2 linked regions of the Homo sapiens genome follow. The protein of the gene in region 2 purifies or fractionates together with the protein of the main gene of each other region. This does not show direct contact. Each region holds a gene or a part of one and is shown on either strand. Other genes may lie near its edges. The genes, in order: PBLD and ELMOD1.

The links.
Region 1: the proteins of ELMOD1 (region 2) and PBLD purify together in Homo sapiens (affinity purification with mass spectrometry; one large-scale study listed by BioGRID and IntAct). This does not show direct contact.

What each region holds. Positions count from the first base shown.
Region 1 is NC_000010.11:68,282,160-68,285,044, forward strand, and holds the end of PBLD (phenazine biosynthesis-like domain-containing protein), read right to left. Parts: intron 2,131-2,885; coding exon 2,018-2,130; 3' UTR 501-2,017; downstream 1-500.
Region 2 is NC_000011.10:107,632,380-107,636,412, reverse strand, and holds part of ELMOD1 (ELMO domain-containing protein 1), read right to left. Parts: intron 778-4,033; coding exon 648-777; intron 1-647. UniProt on the Homo sapiens protein: Acts as a GTPase-activating protein (GAP) toward guanine nucleotide exchange factors like ARL2, ARL3, ARF1 and ARF6, but not for GTPases outside the Arf family.

The sequences.
Region 1 (2,885 bases), on a different chromosome or scaffold from region 2:
TAGTCCTAGCACTTTGGGAGGCCACAACAGGTGGATCACTTGAGGCCAGGAGTTTGAGACCAGCCTGGCCAACATGGTGAAATCCCATCTCTACTAAAAATACAAAAATTAGCCAGGCATGGTGGTGAGCACCTGTAATCCCAGCTACTTTGGAGGCTGTGTCATGAGAATCATTTGAACCTGGAAGGCGGAGGTTGCAGTGAGCCAAGATGGCACCAGCCTGGGCGACAGAGCAAGACTCTGTCTCAAAAAAAAAAAAGAATTTAGCATACATTTGAAAGATCAGATTCAGATCTGATCAAATTCAGGCCCTCTCAACTGTACATTTATATAAACTTATTCATATAGTTCAGTCTCAGGTTTGGAAAATCCAAAATTGGGGGAAAACCCTCTGGTGATTCTCGCCCTTGGTATCATGACCCGTGGGTGTGTTGTGATGAGTTGTGAGGTCTTCTGGGGGGCGGTGGGGCACTGGTTACTCAGTAAGTTAAGGCATTAAAGCTGGTGAATTATTGATTTATTGCACATCAGGAGAAACACAAGATTACTGCTATAATAAATTCACTCTTACATGCTTTAGCAAAAATCAGTAAAAATAGAAAACATGGTAACAATTAAAGTGAAAAAATTGGGGTCATTAAAGAATGTCTGACTGATTAGCTTGCAGTTTTTGAGACGGCTGAGAACTACCATCAATGAGATCACCTTAAACAAACACTCTTAATGACTTGAAAAAGTCCCCATCCCAAAGTCAACTATAGGTATTCAATATTGTATATTTAACTGAATTTAAAGTTATGTTAAAACCCATTTTATTGAAGTAAGAGAAGAATTCCTTTTACATTATCATTCTCAAGCCATATATCAAGAAAAAGATTGAAATTACATTCCTTTTTTTTTTTTTAATAGAGACAAGTTCTCGCTGTGTTGCCCAGGCTGGTCTCGAACTCCTAGGTTCAAGTGATCCTCCTGCCTTGTCCTGCCAAAGTGCTGGGATTACAGGCATGAGCCGCCACGCCCAGCTGAGATTACATTACTTTGAGTGTTTAATTTCACTATGACAGGAAGTAGCCTAATACATACTTTTTTGTGTTAATTTTCTGGATTCATCCTGATTTTTAGTCTTCGTACCTGAGTACAACAATAAAGGAAATCACTTCTTAGATACATTAAAATTACTTCTAAACTTGCCCCCCACACATGAACTGTTTTCAGTTTGCTATTTTTAATGGCCCATGCTTATTTATATAGACATAGCATAACACTGCTAACACTTTATGGCCTACTGTCCTCTTTCTTAGTATTATATTATAAAATATTTTTCTATATTTCCACATAGTTATTGACTCATTTTAATGGCTGCAAAATCAGGTACTCATTTAAGCTCAAATGGTTTAGTATCACTCCTCAGAAATGTATTCCTCCTTCTCTTGATTGGTAGTCATAATCAAATGAAGTGACATTATTCTTTGTAGCTGGTTACTTACATTTCAAATACACTCATGAGTGGAGCCAAAACTCCATTAGTTCATTAGTCTGGAAGCACTATTAAATCTCCATTAAAATGTCTTCACTTTTCAATTTTGTGTGTGTGTGTGTGTGTGTGGATGGAGTCTTACTCTGTTGCCCAGGCTGGAGTGCAGTGGTGTGATCTCTGCTCACTGCAACTTCTGCCTCCTGGGTTCAAGCGATTCTCCATGCCTCAGCCTCCCAAGTAGCTGGAATTACAGGCATGTGGCACCACACCCAGCTAATTTTTGTATTTGTAGTAGAGACGAGGTTTCACCATGTTGGCCAGGCTGGTGTCGAACCCCTGACCTCAGGTGATCCACCCACCTTGGCCTCTCAAAGTGCTACGATTACAGGCATGAGCCACTGCGCCTGGCCCATTTTTCGATTTTTAACATGAGGATTAAGTAGACTACTACGCACATTTGCTAAAGGCAGCCCCTTACATTTCTTTTTAAGCAGAAAATACTTGGTGGTTAGAGACAGCAGCGTCACAGCATAACCACCTCTAGGCTGTCAGTGTGCCCTCTAAAACAACAGCTGCACCTCCTCTAATGTCAACCCTTCCGTCTGGACGAAGGGAAATTCCCAGCTCTCCTCCTCGGTGGGAACACTGAAAAGCTAAAGAAAACAAACAGGTCAAATTAAGAGTATTTTCACCCTTTTAAATTAACAAAGCATAGTGAAAGACTTATTACAAATCTTAGAGTCCTCCCAGATCAGTTTCAAGAATAAATTCCTTCGTCTGTTTATGGTACTGCCCACTCCCATCCCCATTCTCCTGCAGACTGAGAAAGCCACAAACTCAATTTGATCTACAGAACACACAGCTCCACATACTCCCTTCCTGAGCCTTTTCCTGGGCCATCTCCTTCACTAATTCCTGTAATGGCCCAGACACACCCCACTCATCGCTTCTTCCCCTGCTCTCTCTAGGAGTAAGCAAAGATGTTTGAAACAATAGAGGCAGGCCTATAACTCTAGGAAGATGAAGAAGGGTGGTCTCAGCCCTCTTGAGAAGGCCCCCATCTTCTCAGCTCTGAATAGGACAGAGGGAGTTCATTCACTCATAACATATTCAAGCAACCACGTGTTCCAGGCAGACAAAAGAGGCATAGCCTCAGCCTTCCAGGAGCTCAGTACTTAGGAGAATAATTAGACTCGCCAAGGAAAATGAATAGCCACCTTGCTCTCTCCAAATCAGGGTCACAGACTCCTCCTTGGATGATCAGGGCAGTGCAGCCTCCATTGGCTGCCATCATTTTTCTCTGCCTCTAAGCAATACATTAATCACTAGGGGACTTGGTTCCAAAGTAATTTGTTTGATTCAATCCTGTGACTAGCAATAGCAGTAAGGAACCTTGGTCATCATCCAG
Region 2 (4,033 bases):
AATTTCTTTAGCCCCAAACTCAAGTGTTTTGAGGGAAAGTTTTACTGATGTTTCTTAATATACCATCAGATCCTGTAAGATTTTTAAGGTTTTGCTTTGACAGCCAGGAGTATTCATAACTCCACATTATTTCTCCAGAAGTTCTAGTGTGCCAAATATAAACCTTTACCTCTTCTAATACTAAGTTACATGCATAAATAATCAGCATTAAGATCTTGGGTAATTTCCCAAGAGGGCCATTGCTGAAGCAGAAACCAACTTTATCTTCTCTGATGTGTATTAAAAGTCGTAAATGGGAATCCCAAGTCACTCTTTGACAAATGCTATTTCTCCTGTTGGCTTTCAACACTTGTTAAACAAACTAAACTTAAGCCAAATGTGAGAGCCCACAGAAATCACCTCTGACGTTTTCTCAGATTACAAAAGAAAATTGGCTTTGAACTTAACTTCTCACAGGAATTTTCTGATGAAAAATTTACTTCCAACACCTGAACCAGCGAGAAAACTTGACCTTACCAACCAGTTAGGTGCCCGTGTCTGATCCATCTTTGTACCCCTGATGTCCAGAGCAGCGCCTAGCACATAGCAGGTGCCTGGCAAATGTCAGCTGACTTAGAGGAAGAACCGAAATGTGTTCAAGCACTAACCTTCAAAAGCATTTCTTCATGTTGGGGATTATCAGAATCATAGGCCTCTCTACGCAGTTTTTCCACATCTGCAATAAGGTTCCTGTACCCAACGATTTGCAGAAGGCAAGCCTGAAGAGAGATTCCCAGCCTAGGGTGTTCAAAAACAGAAGAGACACACAAGGAAGAACAGGGCATTCACTTTGGCATTTGTTCACTTGATGTATGCATGATAGAACTTTTCATATTAATATAATATTCAGGAAATTGCTCAAAGATGATCTATTTAATAGAAGCACAATTCTTATTAAATCTCCACATGGACAACTGTAGAACCTGGCTAAAATTTGCCTCGAAGTCTGACTTTTTCTAAAGCTAAATGGCAATGGTATGACTTAAAAATAAGGGATTTCTGAGGCCAAGATGGGAGGATTGCTTGAAGCCAGGAGTACAAAACCAGCCTGGGCAACAAAGCAAGATCCTATCTCTACCAAAACAAAACAAAACCAAAACCCACAAGGGATTTCTTTATGCAGGTTACTTGAAATTATAGGTAATACTGGGCTCTTAGGGATTATATAGCACCCCCCAGGTGGTCATATCAGAATTACCTTAGAAAGATGTGTGGAAGAGAATGAGGATGAGGACAACAGAAAAAGCCCTTAAGGGCTTCAAGGAAAAAAATCAAAACAAAATGAAGTGAAACAAAATAACAATAACAACACCACCTCCACTTAGGAGTGTCCTCCTCAGGGGAGACAGTGCTAAGAGGGTAGTTACAACTTTACAAGATGTTCTATTACATTCTGACCGCTGTAGTTGTCTGAACACTTTTTCTTATGCTGAAACAAAATCTGCTTTGCTTATTACAAAGTGGTTCCAATTCCGTTCTCTGAGCAAATTTATTTCCACCTTTCCAGTGCCATGACTATTTAAGATAGCGAGTCTTCTAATCTCTAGGGAAAAGAGAAATCTTATTTCTTCATTTCCCTCTCATGGGACATCTTATTTCAGATGTTTTATTTTATTTTTATTTTTTATGTTTTGAGACAGAGTCTTGCTCTGTTACCCAGGCTGGAGTGCAGTGGTACAATCTTGGCTCACTGCAACCTCCGCCTCCTGATTTCTAGTGATTCTCCTGCCCTAGCCTCCCGAATAGCTGAGATTACAGGTGCCCAGCACTACATCTAGTTAATTTTTATATTTTTTAATAGAGATGGAGTTTTGCCATGTGTGGCCAGGCTGGTCTCGAACTCCTGACCTCAGGTGATCTGCCTCCCTCTGCCTCCCAAAGTGCTGGGATTACAGGCATGAGCCACTGCGCCCAGCCGGTTTTCAGATGTTTTATGATCGTTCTCAGTCCTCTCCGAATGTACACTATTTGAATAACAGTACCCTAAAAGCATATCACTAGAACAGAAAACAATCTGGCAACTGTAACACACAGAGGATCATTACTTTCTGTGACTGGAATGCTGTTTTCCCTTTCTACAGCCTCTAAAGTAATGTAGAATCTAAAGGTCTAAAAGTAGCACTTCACGTTTATTTTTTCCTCCTAAATTCTTTAGAGTCATGTATTTTCTGTGGCTCAAAAATGGCTGAACATTGGCAATTGCATATGATACTCTCCAATCTAGTCTTTTGTCTTGTTCACTCATGGACTTTGAGCATGTTTGAGGTGGTGTGGTGGTGGTCATTATAATCACTGTACATCATCATATTTTTTTTTAGGGGTAAATGACATGCACAGATGTTAAATCTCAAGTTGAGGGCAACAGAACTTAGAACTGTGTACCTGCTCCAAACGTACAGGACAGTCAGACAGCCTAGGAATACTGAACTTTAATAAAGTCATATTCAGTGAATGACTTTCATCATTACTTGTTACCATAGCACCAAACAACTAGGCCAGATATTAAAATTTAGGAAAGGGCACCATAGCACTAGCCACCTAGAAAGTCCATGTAGTATGGAGAATAGCGTTAATTTTGAGGGAAAGAGGAGAATGGACGGAATATAAGAGGCAGAAATAAGGAAAGTCAATTAAATTTTCTCTGGCCGGGTGCGGTGTCTTACGCCTGTAATCTCAGCACTTTGGGAGGCAGAGGCGGGCAGATCACGAGGTCAGGGGTTTGAGACCAGCCTGGCCAACACGGTAAAACCCCATCTTTACTAAAAATACAAAAATTAGCCAGATGTGGTGGCACGTGCCTGTAGTCCCAGCTACTTGGGAGGCTGAGGCAGGAGAATCGCTTGAACCCGGGAGGTGGAGGTTGCAGTGAGCCTAGACTGCGCCATTGCACTCCAGCCTGGGTGACAGAGCAAGACTCTTGTCTCAAAAAAAAGATTAAAATAAATAAATAAATTTTCTCTGTCGTAATTTTTAGTGCCACCATAAGCAGCACTTAAAAAATGTAATTAAAACAAGTGAGGTTAATAGTAGTAACAGTTTGGTAAGTTATAAAGTGTTTCCCCCATCTCTAAGCTATTTCTTTGTTTTCTCAGAAAAGTACTTAATTTTTTTATATCAGAGCTTATCAATGTCGCTCTGTAAAAAAGGCACTAGAATCCACATGGAGATTTAAAAAAAATACTACAGGTTGAGTAACCCTTATCTGACATGCTTGGGACCAGAAGTGTTTCAGATTTTGGAATAGTTGCATATACATAATGAGATACCTTGGGGATGGGACACAAGTCTAAACATGAAATTCATTTGTGTTTCATATACAACTTATACACATAGCCTGAAGGTAATTTTATACAACATTTTTAATAATAGATGCAATCTGTCACATGAAGTCAGCTATGGAATCTTCCATTTGTGGCATGATGTCAATGCCCAAAAGTTTCAGATTTTGGATTTTCAGATTAGGGATCCTCAACCTGAACCTAAAAGGGTCTTTTAAAAAAATGAGAACAAGAGAATGGATGGCAAAGAAATGCTCTTGAATGCACCTTATATAACTTTCATAGAAAAGATTTGCTATTAAATCTAATCCAGTCTCTAAACATGATTACAGGACTCATATATCCCTCTTGCCAGTTGTAGTCTTAAATTTTTCGTTCAATCTTATTTATAATGAACTGCCTTCTTATCACCTTCCCAGAGGAATAAAATATATGTTAGAAGGTTTCAAAAAGACCTTTACTATATAAGTAAATCAACCTTTGGTAGCTGAATAGGCAAAAGGCAGCTAATGAACTGAAGCGGCTGCTAAAGAACGCTATAGAGACCAGGCAAAAATGGAGGTTTTGTGATGAGCCCCTAGATAGCTAGTATCCAAAATCCTTCCAAGAGATAGACCTACGCAAGTGTGCTCTGAAATTCCCTTCAGCTACAGTTCCTGTAATTATTAATAAAAGCCTTTCTCAAAGGTAACATCTAAAGTTCTCAGACACGAACA